Linked DNA regions of Homo sapiens. The protein of the gene in region 1 interacts with the protein of each later gene in a pairwise test. Each region holds a gene or a part of one and is shown in the gene's direction. Other genes may lie near its edges.

Region 1 (3,500 bases):
TAATACCTCCTCTGGGATAAGTAGTGCTCCGTCTGTCTCATGGGCACATATTAGTGTCGTAATGCCAAATACTAAGGTTATTGTAAGCATAAACATTGAAGATAATTGCTAGAGAAAAATAGACTGAAAAAGATGTAAGAAAAATACACGTAGATGAGAGTAACCTGTCTGGTGGAATCATGACATTCTAAGCAGTGAAGGAATCACCAATGAGAAAATCTACAAAGGCTCAAGATCAAGTCTCTTTAGGTGAATAAGGCAATCTAGAAAGACCTTGGAATAATAATACCATTTCCTGAGGACCTTCTAAATAAGTGCCATTAAAGCTTTAAATACATTAAGACTATTCTTCACAAAATCTCTGCTAATAGTAGGTATTAATTGAGACTCAAGAAATATCAAATAACTTATTTATGGCTACACAGCTAGATACTAATGGCAGGAGTGTTTAATTAGAAGTACTTTTACTATCCCAGGTTGCCTCAAATGAAAACATTTTGGACAGCAATGTAAGGTGAATAGCTGAGCATGATGGCACAAGCTATAGCCCCAGCTACTTGGGAGGCTGAGGCACAAGGATTGCTTGAGCAAATGAGTTGAGTCCAGCATGGACAACTGTATTCCTGCAGCCTGCTTGTATTCCTCTCCTCAAAGTGCTTTTTCCTTCTCTGCCACATGACTAGTCTGTGAATTTTCCAAACTTCTACGCTCTGCTTCCCTTTTAAATATGTTCCAACTTTAAGTTATTTCTTTGCTTCCATATCTGATTGTAGGCTGCTAGCATCAGCCAGGCCACATCTTGAATGCTTTGCTGCTTAGAAATTTCTTCTGCCAGATACCCTGATACCCTAAGTCATCACTCTTAAGTTCAAACTTCCACAGATTCCTAGGGCCTGGACACAATGCACCCAAGCTATTTGCTAAAGCATGACATAGATGTACCTTTATTCCTGTTCCCAATAACTTCCTCATTTCCATCTGAGACCTCATCACTCTGGACTTCACCATATGTCTATCAGCATTTTGGTCACAACCACTTAACTAGTCTCTAAGTTCCAAACTTTCCCTCATCTTTCTGTCTTCTGAGCCCTCCAGATTCTTCCAACCTCTGCCTGTTACCCAGTTCCAAAGCTGTTTCTACATTTTCCAATATGTATAGCAGTGCCCCACTGTCAGTACTAATCTGTTTTAATCTGTTTGCATTACTGTAAAGGAATATCTGAGATTGGGTAATTCTTGCAAAAGAGAGATTTAATTGGCTTACAGTTTCTGCAGGCTGTACACAAAGCATGGCACCAGCAGCTGCTTCTGATGAGGGCCTCAGGAAGCTTACAATCATGGTAGAAGGCAAAATGGGAGCGAGCATATCACATGGTGAGAGAGGGAGCAAGAGAGAGGAGGAGGTCCCAGACTCTAAACAACCAAATTTCACATGAACTAAGATCTCACTCATCACCAAGGTGATGGTGCCAAGCCATTCATGAAGGATTTGCCCCATGATTCTATACCTCCCACGAGGCCCTACCTCCAGCATTGGGGGTTACATTTCAACATGAGATTTGGAAGTGACAGCCATCCAAACCATATCAGCAACATAACAAGACCCCCAACTCTTAAAAAAAAAAGTTGAATATATATCCAAAAATATCTTGAATTCCATATGGAAAGCCTCCCCCCTCAAATTTGTAGTAAATTGTATTATAATGAATACATTAATTAAAAATATACTTGGCCTGGCACAGTAGCTCAAGCCTGTAATCCCAGCACTTTGGGAGGCCGAGGCAGGCGGATCACCTGAGGTCAGGAGTTTTCGAGACCAGCCTGTCCGACATGGTGAAACTCTGTCTCTACTAAAAATACAAAATTAGCCAGCCATGGTGGCATATGCCTGTAATCCCAGCTACTCACTCAGGAGGCTGAGGCAGGAGAATCACTTAAACCCAGGAGACGGAGGTTGCAGTGAGTCAAGATTGCACCGTTGCACTCCAGCCTGGGTGACAGAGTGAGACTCTGTCTGAAAAAAAGTAAAAATTAAAAAATATATTTGACAATACCCAGTACCAATTTATTGTTTGTTGTTGACATTAACATTTTCTTTAAGAGTATTTCTTCATCTGTAAAATGAGGATAAAAATTGTAAAATTGTACCTACTTCCAGCCTCATAGAATTGTTTTGATGATTACATCAGAAAGCTTGTAAAAACCTTAGGCCTGTTTCCTGACATATACTAAATGCCCCATGTGCTAACTGAGGATGATCATTGTAGGAAAATTTCATAGACTATGAGGGAAAGCCATGCCTAAAATAATCTCCAGCTTATTAAGAAGTGCATTCCTTTTTGTTTCTTTGTTTTATCTTAGATTGAGTCTCACTGTATTGCCAGTCTGGAGTGCAGTGGCGCAATCTCAGCTCACTGCAACCTCCACCTCCTGGGTTCAAGCGATCCTCCTGCCTCAGCCTCCTGAGTAGCTGGGACTACAGGAGCACACCACCACGCCCAGCTAATTTTTGTGTTTTTAGTAGAGGCGGGGTTTCACCATGTTGGGCAGGATGGTCTCAAACTCCTGACCTCAGGTGATCCACCCGCCTCAACCTCCCAGAGTGCTGGGATTACAGGCGTGAGCTATCCGTGCCCAGTCAATTTTTGTATTTTTAGTAGAGATGAGGTTTCACCATATTGGTCAGGCTGGTCTTGAACCCCTGACCTCAGGTGATTCACCCGCCTCAGCCTCCCAAAGTGCTGGGATTCCAGATGTGAGCCAGCGCACCCAGCCTGGCCATCTTTTATAAAAAGATGAAGATGTCAGAATTCCCTAATAAGATTCTGGCTCTGTTACCCAGACTGGAGTGCAATGCATGGCATGATCTCAGCACACTGCAACCTCCATCTCCTGGGCTCAAGCCATCCTCCCACTTCAGTCTCCCAAGTGGCTGGGACTACAGGCACACGCCACCACACCTGGCTAATTTTTGTATTTTTTGTAGAGACGAGGTTTCGCCATGTTACCCAGGCTGGTCTTAAACTCCTGAGTTCAAGTGATCCACCTGCCTCAGCCTCCCAAAGTGCTGGGATTACAGGCATGAGCCACTGTACCCGGCCCCTAATAAGTTTTAAATAACCAATATTTTAAAATATTTTAATAGTTACATAGCACTTTAGTTTGCTGATTTAATTTATCCCAAGGGACAAGGATGTTAATGAGAAAACTGACTAGATTTCAGATCACAGATTTTAAGAGAACAAGGATCTCAAAACCAAATACCCTCTGCTTAAAGTGTTTTTTGTGTTTTTCACTACTGAAAATGTTTAGAGATTGACTTACCTATTGCTGATACTCAAAACATCTGATATCTTAATATTTTTAAATAACTCACTAAAAGCATATGTTGAAAATGGCAATGTATAGTCTGAGACTGGTGATTAGACTGGACTAAAAGCATATGTTGGAAATGGCAAATATATGATCTGAGACTGGTGATTAATTTACAGTATTGGCAC
Region 2 (3,500 bases), on another chromosome or scaffold:
GCAGCTTATAACCAGCACTTGTTCACATGTTCATGGGGCGGCAGGTCTACCAAAGTTCAGCTGAGCTAGGAAGGCTTCAGCTGGTGGCTTGGCTGCAGGCTGCCCAGGTGTGGGTCCAGGCTGTGGGTTGATGTCAGGCCTGCTGCATGTAGAGTTACTTAAAAGCAAATGGAATAATATAAGTAAAGCGCCTGGCATTGTGCCCACCCACCATCAGGTGGGCACTTGTGTTAACCATTAATTCCTGACTGCCACATTGCATGGTGATCTTCATGCACAGTGGAAGTGTATTTAGACTTAATAACGTTTCTGTGAAAAGCAGTGTTCTGAGAGACTAAGTTCAAAACTTTGGTGCATATAACTTCTGACCTTGCCTCCTCTTTTTAACATTTTAGCCAGCTTACCAAAACCTGAGGCAGAAAGTGGATAATTTTGTGTCAACACATCTGGACAAGCAGGAATGGAATCCTACGATGAACAAAAACCAGTTGCGAAATGGTCTGAGGCAGAGTGTGGTTCAGTAAGTAAGCAGAATTTAAAGCTTTTGAAAAGGCAGTCATCACAAGTGTGATGCACAAGAAGGTTGAGGTCTCTGTTTAGTCAAGGTTGATGGGACTTTATATCAAGTATCACTTAGGAGTTGCAGCAGTCTGCTCTTTTGTTATAATTAAGGTTAAAGGAAGCAAAGTACTCAGTTGAAATTCCAGTTTCTGCAGCCTGTGAAGGCCTCCTGTGTGCATCTCTACTGGGTGCATCAAAAGGCATTCCAAATCGTGAGACATTTTCCCTGCTCTTTGAAGTTTCAGTGTTGTCCAAACATATATGTGAGTTTTATACCAAGATATCAGGGTTTGGATCTTGGGCAAGAGGAGTTGGATCTTTATTCTCACAGGTGAATGTGAACTAAATAAATTCTTTGAGTCCACCAGGACTGCCACCTCTAAAGTGTAATGGTGACAGCTTTCAGGAAGGCATAGTCTTAATAAAGTATCGTACTTCACAGTAACAAACTGAACCTTAGTTAATAAAGGTGCTATTGATAGCTTATCTGAGTGACGCACAAAAGTGGAGGTGGAGGAGGGTACAGAAATGGGAGAACACATTAGTGATTGCCTGGGGTTACGGATGGGAGGAGGGGGTGAGTGTGACTTGCAAGTGGTAGCACAAGGGGGAGCTTGCAATGGTGCAGTTAAGTGTCACTGAATTGTGCTGTGCTCACGTGCAACAGCTCGTATGGTAAAGTCGCACGGAGCTACACACACAAATAAGTGCAAGTGTAACTGAAGTCTAAATAAGGTCTGGATTGGACCAGTGTCATTTTCCTGGTTTTGATATTGCACTAGTTACGCAAGGTGCTGACATTAGAGCTGGCTGGGTGAAGGGTGCGTGTGGAACTCCCTGGACTCTTCTTCACAACTTCCTGTGAATATGCAGCGATTTTAAGATTTCTAAAGTTTTTAAAAGTGTTTTACTAACAAGCTAGTACTTCCAATATGGCTGAATGCTGGGAAGAAGCCTGATAGCAGAAGATGCCCAGTGCCTTGTCATTCTGGAGTCAGTACCGAGTGCCTTTCCCTTTCTCCAGAGAACAGACTGGTGGCACCGGGCTCTTTCAGAAAGAAGGGGACAGTAGCTGCCCCTTACTGAGCAACTCTTTATTACATGTCTGGCACTGGTCTTTACATATATCACTCATCCTCATGAAAAGCCTGTTTCACAGCTAAAGTCACTTGTGTTTACCCTGTCTTGAGTAAATCAAAACACTGAACATTCTGAAATATTTGGAAAGTTGCCATGATTGTATGAAGGCTGTTAACATTGCTTTGATTTCTGTAATGAGCATGGATGTCATTCTAGAGGTATGCATGTGGCGCTTCCTCTTGCATTTCTTTAGTAGGAATTGTAATACGGAAAAGTGCACAGAAGTTCAGTGAAACAGATAATTAGAACATCCCTTGATCACCCAGATCGAGAAATGGACTCACACCCCCGAAACAGCCTAGCTCCGGATGTACTTTCCTCCTTTCGGAAGTTTTCCATATTCCTGACTTTTATACTAATCATTTCCTCTCTGCATAGTTTTTACCACCTCTGTGAAGTTGTTGTTTTTTTTTTTTTCCCTGCTTTTTGATTTGACTTAGAATGTGTTTAACCTGAAAACATGAACTTGGCTTTAATACTGGGACATTTCTCCACAATTCTTGCTAGCATTTTGAATTTGAGGCAAAATCTACTGGAGTTTCGAAACGCAGACTTTCTGCTTGCCCCCAGGTGCTCTCCCCAGGTGGACACTGCAGGCCTTCAGAGCATTGGCTCACTGGCCTGGCTGTTCTGGCCCAGATGCTGTAACCCAGTGCCACAGCCTAGAGGGTTTAACAGGAAATTAGCCTGTGCTATTGCACTGAATTATGACGAATAACTCTTGTAACTGTACAATATTTGTTTTTTCCATCTTGTACATTGGGCTCCTGACAAGATTTTATGTTTTCCTCAAAAGTTTAAGAATCTCCAGGAAAGTGAGCTGCACTCCCTTGGTAGTTTGTTTCCCCTGATCAGGGGTTTTGGTCAGTTGGGGATGCTTTAACAAGGCGCCGTAGACTAGGTGGCTTGTAAACAATGGAAATTTACTTCTCACCATTCTGGAGGCTAGAAGTCCAAGACCAAGATGCCAGCATGGTCAGGTTCAGGGGAAGGCCTTCTTGCAGGCAGCAGACTGCCAACTGCTTGTTCTTCTCATGTGGTGGAAAGAGAGCTCGCTAACTTCCTGGGGTCCCTTTTGTAAGGGCATAAATTGCATTCGCGGAGGCTCTGCCCCCATGACCCGATCGCCTCCCAAAGGCCCTACCTCCAAAGGCCATCACATTAAGGATTAGATTTCAACATAGGAAGTCTGGGGGACACAGGCATTTAGTTGATAATATCAAGCTTTTACATCTGGTAAAGGACCCTGTGAATCCGACTCAGGAAGTGGTTTGGTAAAGTTGGAAAGGTATTGGCTTGTGACTGAGGAGAGGTGGCTTTCCTTTGTTAGCATCCCATAGCCGGATGCTAACTTTGCTGTATTTAACGATGCTCATCACTAAGGGCCGATACTGTCTAATGCCTGGTCTACCTGAAAATGTGCCCTTCAGTGCTCTAGTGGTGGTGTATTTACATCTAGGCTTCCTGTCGATAAGCTGTTAGTTACCATTGAATCCAGGGAGCACTTTACACACTAATCATCTTTCCCAGTTCACAGCCTGTTTCTTATCTTCTTTGTCATGATGTACATTTACTCATGTCTTTCCTTTGCTGTACCCTGACAGACCATTTGCCCACTTGCTGCCCAGCCTATTTTTACCCGAAGGCTTAAATGGCCTCTGAAGTCTCAAGTCTACGGGAAAATAAGTAAAACCTGCCCACATGCTTGTGATGGTATTGGAATATTTCAGTCCTTTGAGAAGAACACTTCACTTTGAACCTTACGGGCTATTTTCCAGACTGTCCAAATATGATTTGTT
Region 3 (3,098 bases), on another chromosome or scaffold:
TCCCAAAGTGCTGGGAGTATAGATGTGAGTCACTGCACCCAACCTTTTTCTTTGTTTTTGAGACAGGGTCTCACTCTGTTGCTCAGGCTCTGTACAGTGGTGCAGTCATGGCTCGCAGCAGCCTCAACCTCCCAGGATCAAGCCATCCTCCCACCTGAGCCTCCCAAGTGGCTGGGACCACAAGCATGTGCTACCATGCCCAGCTAATTAAAAATTTTTTTTTTTTTTTTTTTTAGAAATGGGGGTCTTGCTATCTTGCCCAGTCTGGTCTCAAACTCTTGGATTCAGGGGATTCTCCTGCCTTGGCCCCACAAAGTGCTGGAATTATAGGCGGGAGCCACCGCACCTGGCCGTGCCTGATTTCTTAAAGTTCAGTTCCAGGGCCGGGCGAGGTGGCTCACGCTTATAATCCCAGCAGTTTGGGAGGCTGAGGCGGGTGGATGTCTTGAGGCTAGGAGTTTGAGACCAGCCTGGCCAACATAGTAAAAACCCCATCTCTACTAAAAATATAAAAATTAGCCGGGCTGGGCGCAGTGGCTTGCGTCTGTATTCCCAGCACTTTGGGAGGCCGAGGCAGGCGGATCACCTGAGGTTAGGAGTTCGAAACCAGCCTGGCCAACATGGTGAAACTCCATCTCTACTAAAAATACAAAAATTCGGCTGGGCCTGGTGGCTCACACCTGTAATCCTAGCACTTTGGCAGGCTGCGGCAGGTGGATTGCCTGAGGTCAGGAGTTCGAGACCAGCCTGGCGAAACCCCGTCTCTACTAAAAATACAAAAATTTAGCTGGGCATGGTGGTGGATGCCTATAATCCCAGCTACTCTGGAGGAGAATCACTTGAACCCAGGGGGCGGAGGTTGCAGTGAGCTGAGATCGCACCACTTCACTCCAGCCTGGGTGAAAGAGTGAAACTCCATCTCAAGAAAAAAAAAAATTAGCCAGGTGTAGTGGCATGTGCCTGTAGTCCCAGCTACTCAGGAGGCTGAGGCAGAATTGGTTGAACCCGGGAGGCAGAGGTTGCAGTGAGCCGAGATCATGCCACTGCACTCCAGCCTGGGTGACAGAGTTAGATTCCGTCTCAAAAAAAAAAAAAAAAAAATTTAGCCAGGCGTGGTGGCACATGCTTGTAATTCTAGCTACTCAGGAGGCTGAGGCACGAGAATCACCTGAACCCTGGGGGTGGAGGTTGCAGTGAGCCGAGATTGCACCACTGCACTCCAGCCTAAGTGACAGAGCGAGACTGTCTCAAAAAAAAAAAAAAGTTCAGTTCCAGGGTGTGTGCTAGGGAGAAGCTGGCTGTGGAGGGGCACAGACCCTGGAGCTGGTCCCTGGCTGTTGCCACTCCCCTAGAGGGACAAGTAGCAGCTGCAGGAGGGCCCTGCATGTGCAGGGCTGTAGTGCAGACTTCACCCTGCCGTTCCCAGGTCCTCCCTGAGGCGGGGGCCGGAGAGGACAGTCCTGGGAGAAACATGGACACTGCACTTGAAGAGCTTCAGTTGCCCCCAAATGCCGAAGGCCACGTAAAACAGGTAAGACTGAGTGCAAAGGTGGTCTGTGGTTGGACACAAGATGACTTGCTCCAAACAAAATGGAAACCAGTGAGCACCCACCATGAGACCTGTGTGGCCGAGGCAGGGTGTGCAGCCTGGGTTTCAGAGCTCCCCAGTCAAATTCTCCACCATGGTGTGGGCACATCTGGATTTTGGGGGAGCAGCCCGGAGTGTCTAGCTGCCCTGGGGTTGTGCTGTGTGCGTGTCTGGTGGCCTGCTCACCATGGCCCGCCTTCCTGCTGGTGATGCAGCTCTAGGCTCTCACTCCCCTGTCCTCAGGTCTCGCCACGGAGGCCGCAAGCAACAGAGGCTGTTGGCCGGCCGACTGGCCCTGCAGGCCTGAGAAGGACCCCCAACAAGCAGCCATCTGATCACAGCTATGCCCTTTTGGACTTAGATTCCCTGAAGAAAAAACTCTTCCTCACTCTGAAGGAAAATGAAAAGCTCCGGAAGCGCTTGCAGGCCCAGAGGCTGGTGATGCGAAGGATGTCCAGCCGCCTCCGTGCTTGCAAAGGGCACCAGGGACTCCAGGCCAGACTTGGGCCAGAGCAGCAGAGCTGAGCCCCACAGGCTCCGGACGCAGAGGTGGCAGTGGCACCAGGGCCGGCAGAGCTTTGGAGCTCTGGCTGTGGACATTTTTGTCTGCTGTGGACACTGAGAAAGTTGGCCATGAGGCCTGCTTGGCCGGGGATCGAGACAGTAGCCAAGCTCCCCGGCGAGAGCCCCAATGCCGTCTGGGGGACGTTTAGAGGCGTGGCACTAGGAGTGCACATCTGTGAGCATGACAAGCTTATCCTCCCATGGTAACAGAAGTCCAGGCTGAGGCTGATTCTGGACGCTGTCCTTTCAGCACACGCAGAGCAAAGATCGTTGGAAGCCCCAGTGTGGGAGATGCTCCTCAGGGAGGAAGCCATGTGAGGGGGCTGGCTCTGTGGCGGGTGAGTGGTCCCCTCCTCCATCAGCCTGGACAGCCGCTCGGGGTTCTAAGGAGTGACTCCTGTCCCGGCCTGGTGTGAGTGGGCAGTGTAATAAAGTGTCTTTCTATACGGTGTCGCTCCCATCATCATTTTCTCTAGTGCCGTGATTCCTTCTAAGAAGACTGACTTCCGTGGCCGGGCGCAGTGGCTCATGCCTGTAATCCCAGCACTTTGAGAGGCCGAGGTGGGGAGATCACTTGAGGTCAGGAGTTCAAGACCAGCCTGGCCAACATGGTGAAATCCCATGTCTACTAAAAAAGACACAAATTAGCCAGGCGTGGTGGCACACACCTGTAGTCCCAGCTACCTGGGAGGCTGAGACAGGAGGATCAGCTGAACCCGGGAGGTGGAGGTTGCAGTGAGCCGAGATCACACCACTGCCCTCTAGTATTGTCACTGGGTGACAGAGCGAGACTCAGTCTGAAAAAAAAAACTGACTTCCTATTTTGTCTAATTTATAGCTTTAGTGAATTAAAGAAAAAAGTTCTAGCCTGATTTCCTAACTTGGGGTCTATTTATTTCTCAGGCAATGTTGTTTAATGTAGAAAATGGAACCCCAGCTTCACGTG
Region 4 (3,500 bases), on another chromosome or scaffold:
AGAATGAGCCTGGTTTCTAAACATTCCTGCAGATTTACCAGGATGAAGGTAAAACTTCTGCATTAGAAAAAGTGCTCTTAGAAAAATAATGCCTTGTTATACTTCTGCCTTTTCTCATCAGAGTCTTATCTGGTCAATGGCTATCCAGAGTATTAACTGGGGACCCACTAATATATGTTGGAGTAAAGGTTGATCATTGCTTAGATCATCACATCAGTTTGATTTGAGAAATATCGTGCCTGGAGGACAGATTGGAATATTCTGATCTAGTTAAATTGGGAGTTGTGGATCCACCTTGGACTAGAATCCATGTAACTTGCTATAAATGTATAATCAGCAGACTTACTAGAATGTAAGCTCCAGGGAGTTGGAAATTTTGTCTGCTCTTTTTTATCATGATGGTATCCTAAACATCTAAAACAATGCCTGGCACATAATAAGGACTCATATTTTCTCAGATGTTTTGCTCATTTTGTAGAGGTTAAGTCCTCATTAATGGATATCAGTGATTTTTTTTAAGGTTAGAAATGCCATTTAATAAATGACTCATTCTCTATACTTGACATGTTTATAGTTTTAGAGGATGTATTCATTTTAAAAAATCATTTGGTTTCTGAGTTGTTTTTCATAAAATGGCATTAATGTTTTTCACACATTTACCATGTGTGAAAGTACTTTGTGTTTTAAGCACTAGAGCCTGTGTTCTAAGTGCTACCCCATTTTTATGATGGGGTTTATGCCTTTTTCCTCCCCATTTTGTACTGAGGAACCTGATTCATACAAGGAATGATAGGCCGGGTGTGGTGGCTCACGCCTGTAATCCCAGCACTTTGGGAGGCCGAGGCAGGTGGATCACCTGAGGTCTGGAGTTCGAGACCAGCCTGGCCAACATGGTGAAACCCCGTCTCCACTAAAAATACAAAAATTAGCTGGGTGTGGTGGCACACGCCTGTAATCCCAGCTATTTGGGAGGCTGAGGCAGGAGAATTGCTTGAGCCCGGGAGACAGAGGTTGCAGTGAGCTGAGATCACGCCACTGTACTCCAGCCTGGCCAACAAAGCGAGACTTTATCTCAAAAAAAAAAGAAGGAACGGTTAACTTGCCAAGGTATGTATGTATGTAAGTGATGACACTTAGACAAGAACCCAGATAGTTTGACTTCAAAGCCTTTATGTGTTAATTTTTTAAATTTTTATATTTTTTCTTGAAACATTTATACTTAATATTTTAATTTACAAATAAATATGCAAAGAAGGGATTTTTGTTGTTGTTGCTTTTTGTTTGTTTTCTGAGACAGGGTCTCAGTCTGTCATCCAGGCTGGAGTGCAGTGGCACGATCTCAACTCACTGCAGCCTCTGCCTCCCAGGCTCAAGTGATCCTCACACCACATCAGCCTCCTAAGTAGCTGGGACTTAGGAGGCACATGCTACCACACCTGGCTAGTTTTTGTATTCTTTTGTAGAGATGGGGTTTTGCCATGTTGCTCAGGCTGGTCTCAAACTCCTGGGCTCAAGCAGTCTACCTGCCTCTGCCTCCCAAAGTGCTGGGATTATAGGTGTGAGCCACTGTATATATTTTCATGTTTTCTACTAAAAGCAGTAGAAACAAGTGTAGAAATTCCTTCCCATCAGGCGGGAGGCAGGGTGTGTGGTGGCTCAGTCCTGTAATCCCAGCACTCTGGGAGGCCAAGGCGGGCAGATCACGAGGTCAGGAATTTGAGACCAGCCTGACCAACGTGGTGAAACCCTGTCTCTACTAAAAATACAAAAAAATTAGCTGGGCATGGTGGCGGGGGCCTGTAGTCCCAGCTACTCAGGAGGCTGAGGCAGGAGAATTGCTTGAACCTGGGAGGCAGAGGTTGCAGTGAGCTGAGATCGTGCCACTGTACTCCAGCCTGGGTGACAGAGCGAGACTCTCTCTCAAAAAAAAAAAAAAAGAAATTCCTCCCTGTCAAATTCTTTATGTAACATTTTAATATTTAAAGTTATACTTTAGATGGAATTTAAATAAAAAATTATTGTACTACTATTAAATATTGGTAATTTTCTTCAAAGTTCTAGATTTAATCTAAGAAAGATATAATTTTTCTTAGTATTACAAGTTTTATTCAATGAGAGTGATAGTTGAGAAAGTTGTATATATGGTAAATAATTTATGATAAACTGAGTGTTTAGCAATCTATAGAAGCCTTAAGCTATTTTTGTTTTCTCTTTGTAGAATATGACTTTCGATAAGGAAAAACTTCAATAATACTTTAGAAAAACAAATTTAGCCCAATGAGCTACTGAATTGTTTTCTCTTTTCCAGGTTGGATGTACTGGAAAAGTCATAGGAATTGATCACATTAAAGAGCTAGTAGATGACTCAGTAAATAATGTCAGGAAGGACGATCCAACACTTCTGTCTTCAGGGAGAGTACAGCTTGTTGGTAAGTATCAGAAAACTTTAAAAATTTCTTCAGAGGATTTTTATTTTCAGAAGATCCAATGCAAGCTAAATAATACTCAGAGGTAATTATTGTATTTTTTTTTACAATCACTTTTAAGTACTAAAAAATAAAAACGATTATTTTTGCTCACCTAGTGTGTATTTTGCAGCCATCTCTTTGTGAGTTTAATTTTGTATTTTCCTATTAACCTCTGAGATTGAATTTTTTGTAATGTGTCTGACCATTAGGATTTTGTCTTTTGTGAAGTACCTGTTCAGATATTGGATTGCTTGTATTTTTGACTTACAGGGCTTCTAGCCCTTTGTCTATATATATAAATACATTTCTTCTCCCATCTGAGGTGTGCCTTTTCATCTTATTGGTACCCTTTTGATAATAGAAATTCTTAATTTTAATGTAGTCAGACTTACCAATTTTTTTCAGTGCTTTCTGTGTCCTTTTTAAGGATACTCTGAGACCATGAAGATATGTCTCTTATTATTTCTTAGAACCTTTATCATTTTTAGCTTTTCATGTTTAGGTTTTTGATCTTCCTGATGTTGGTTTTTGTGTATGTGTGAGGTAAAGGTGCAGTTATATGTTTTTGTGTATGAATATCCAGTTGTATTCCCCAGACACACTCAGTTTTGTTTAAAAGATAAAATATTGGCCAGGAGCGGTGGCTCACACCTGTAATCCCAGCACTTTGGGAGGCTGAGGTGGGCAGATCATGAGGTCAAGAGTTTGAGACCAGCCTGACCAACATGGTGAAACTCCGTCTCTACTAAAAATACAAAAATAAGCTGGGCGTGGTGGCGCACGCCTGTAGTCCTAGCTACTCGGGAGGCTGAGGCAGGAGAATCGCTTGAACCCGAGAGGTGGAGGTTGCAGTAAGCTGAGATCGCACCACTGAACTACAGTCTGGCGACAGAGCTAGAGTCCGTCTCAAAAAAACAAATAAAATAAAATAAAGGCCCGGGCAGCTCTAGTAGCCACAGCCATCCCCTAGAGGGATCTGGCTGAGGAGGAAGTGGAGGTGTTGCTTGCCTTGGCCTTTGCCCTGATCCTGTG

What was found. Proteins that work in one complex are often made in the same cells at the same time.
Region 2: the proteins of NDUFS1 (region 1) and BOD1 interact in binary tests that used the Homo sapiens proteins (3 or more experiments, as listed by UniProt).
Region 3: the proteins of NDUFS1 (region 1) and THAP3 interact in binary tests that used the Homo sapiens proteins (3 or more experiments, as listed by UniProt).
Region 4: the proteins of NDUFS1 (region 1) and PCMT1 interact in binary tests that used the Homo sapiens proteins (3 or more experiments, as listed by UniProt).

Annotation. Positions count from the first base shown.
Region 1 is NC_000002.12:206,117,945-206,121,444, reverse strand, and holds part of NDUFS1 (NADH-ubiquinone oxidoreductase 75 kDa subunit, mitochondrial isoform 1 precursor), read left to right. Parts: 3' UTR 1-3,500.
Region 2 is NC_000005.10:173,610,151-173,613,650, reverse strand, and holds part of BOD1 (biorientation of chromosomes in cell division protein 1), read left to right. Parts: intron 1-395; coding exon 396-520; exon of another isoform or gene 521-524; intron 525-3,500. UniProt on the Homo sapiens protein: Required for proper chromosome biorientation through the detection or correction of syntelic attachments in mitotic spindles.
Region 3 is NC_000001.11:6,630,965-6,634,062, forward strand, and holds the end of THAP3 (THAP domain-containing protein 3), read left to right. Parts: intron 1-1,405; coding exon of another isoform or gene 1,406-1,426; coding exon 1,427-1,531; intron 1,532-1,831; coding exon 1,832-2,113; 3' UTR 2,114-2,598; downstream 2,599-3,098. UniProt on the Homo sapiens protein: Component of a THAP1/THAP3-HCFC1-OGT complex that is required for the regulation of the transcriptional activity of RRM1.
Region 4 is NC_000006.12:149,791,241-149,794,740, forward strand, and holds part of PCMT1 (protein-L-isoaspartate(D-aspartate) O-methyltransferase), read left to right. Parts: intron 1-2,308; coding exon 2,309-2,429; intron 2,430-3,500. UniProt on the Homo sapiens protein: Initiates the repair of damaged proteins by catalyzing methyl esterification of L-isoaspartyl and D-aspartyl residues produced by spontaneous isomerization and racemization of L-aspartyl and L-asparaginyl residues in aging peptides and proteins.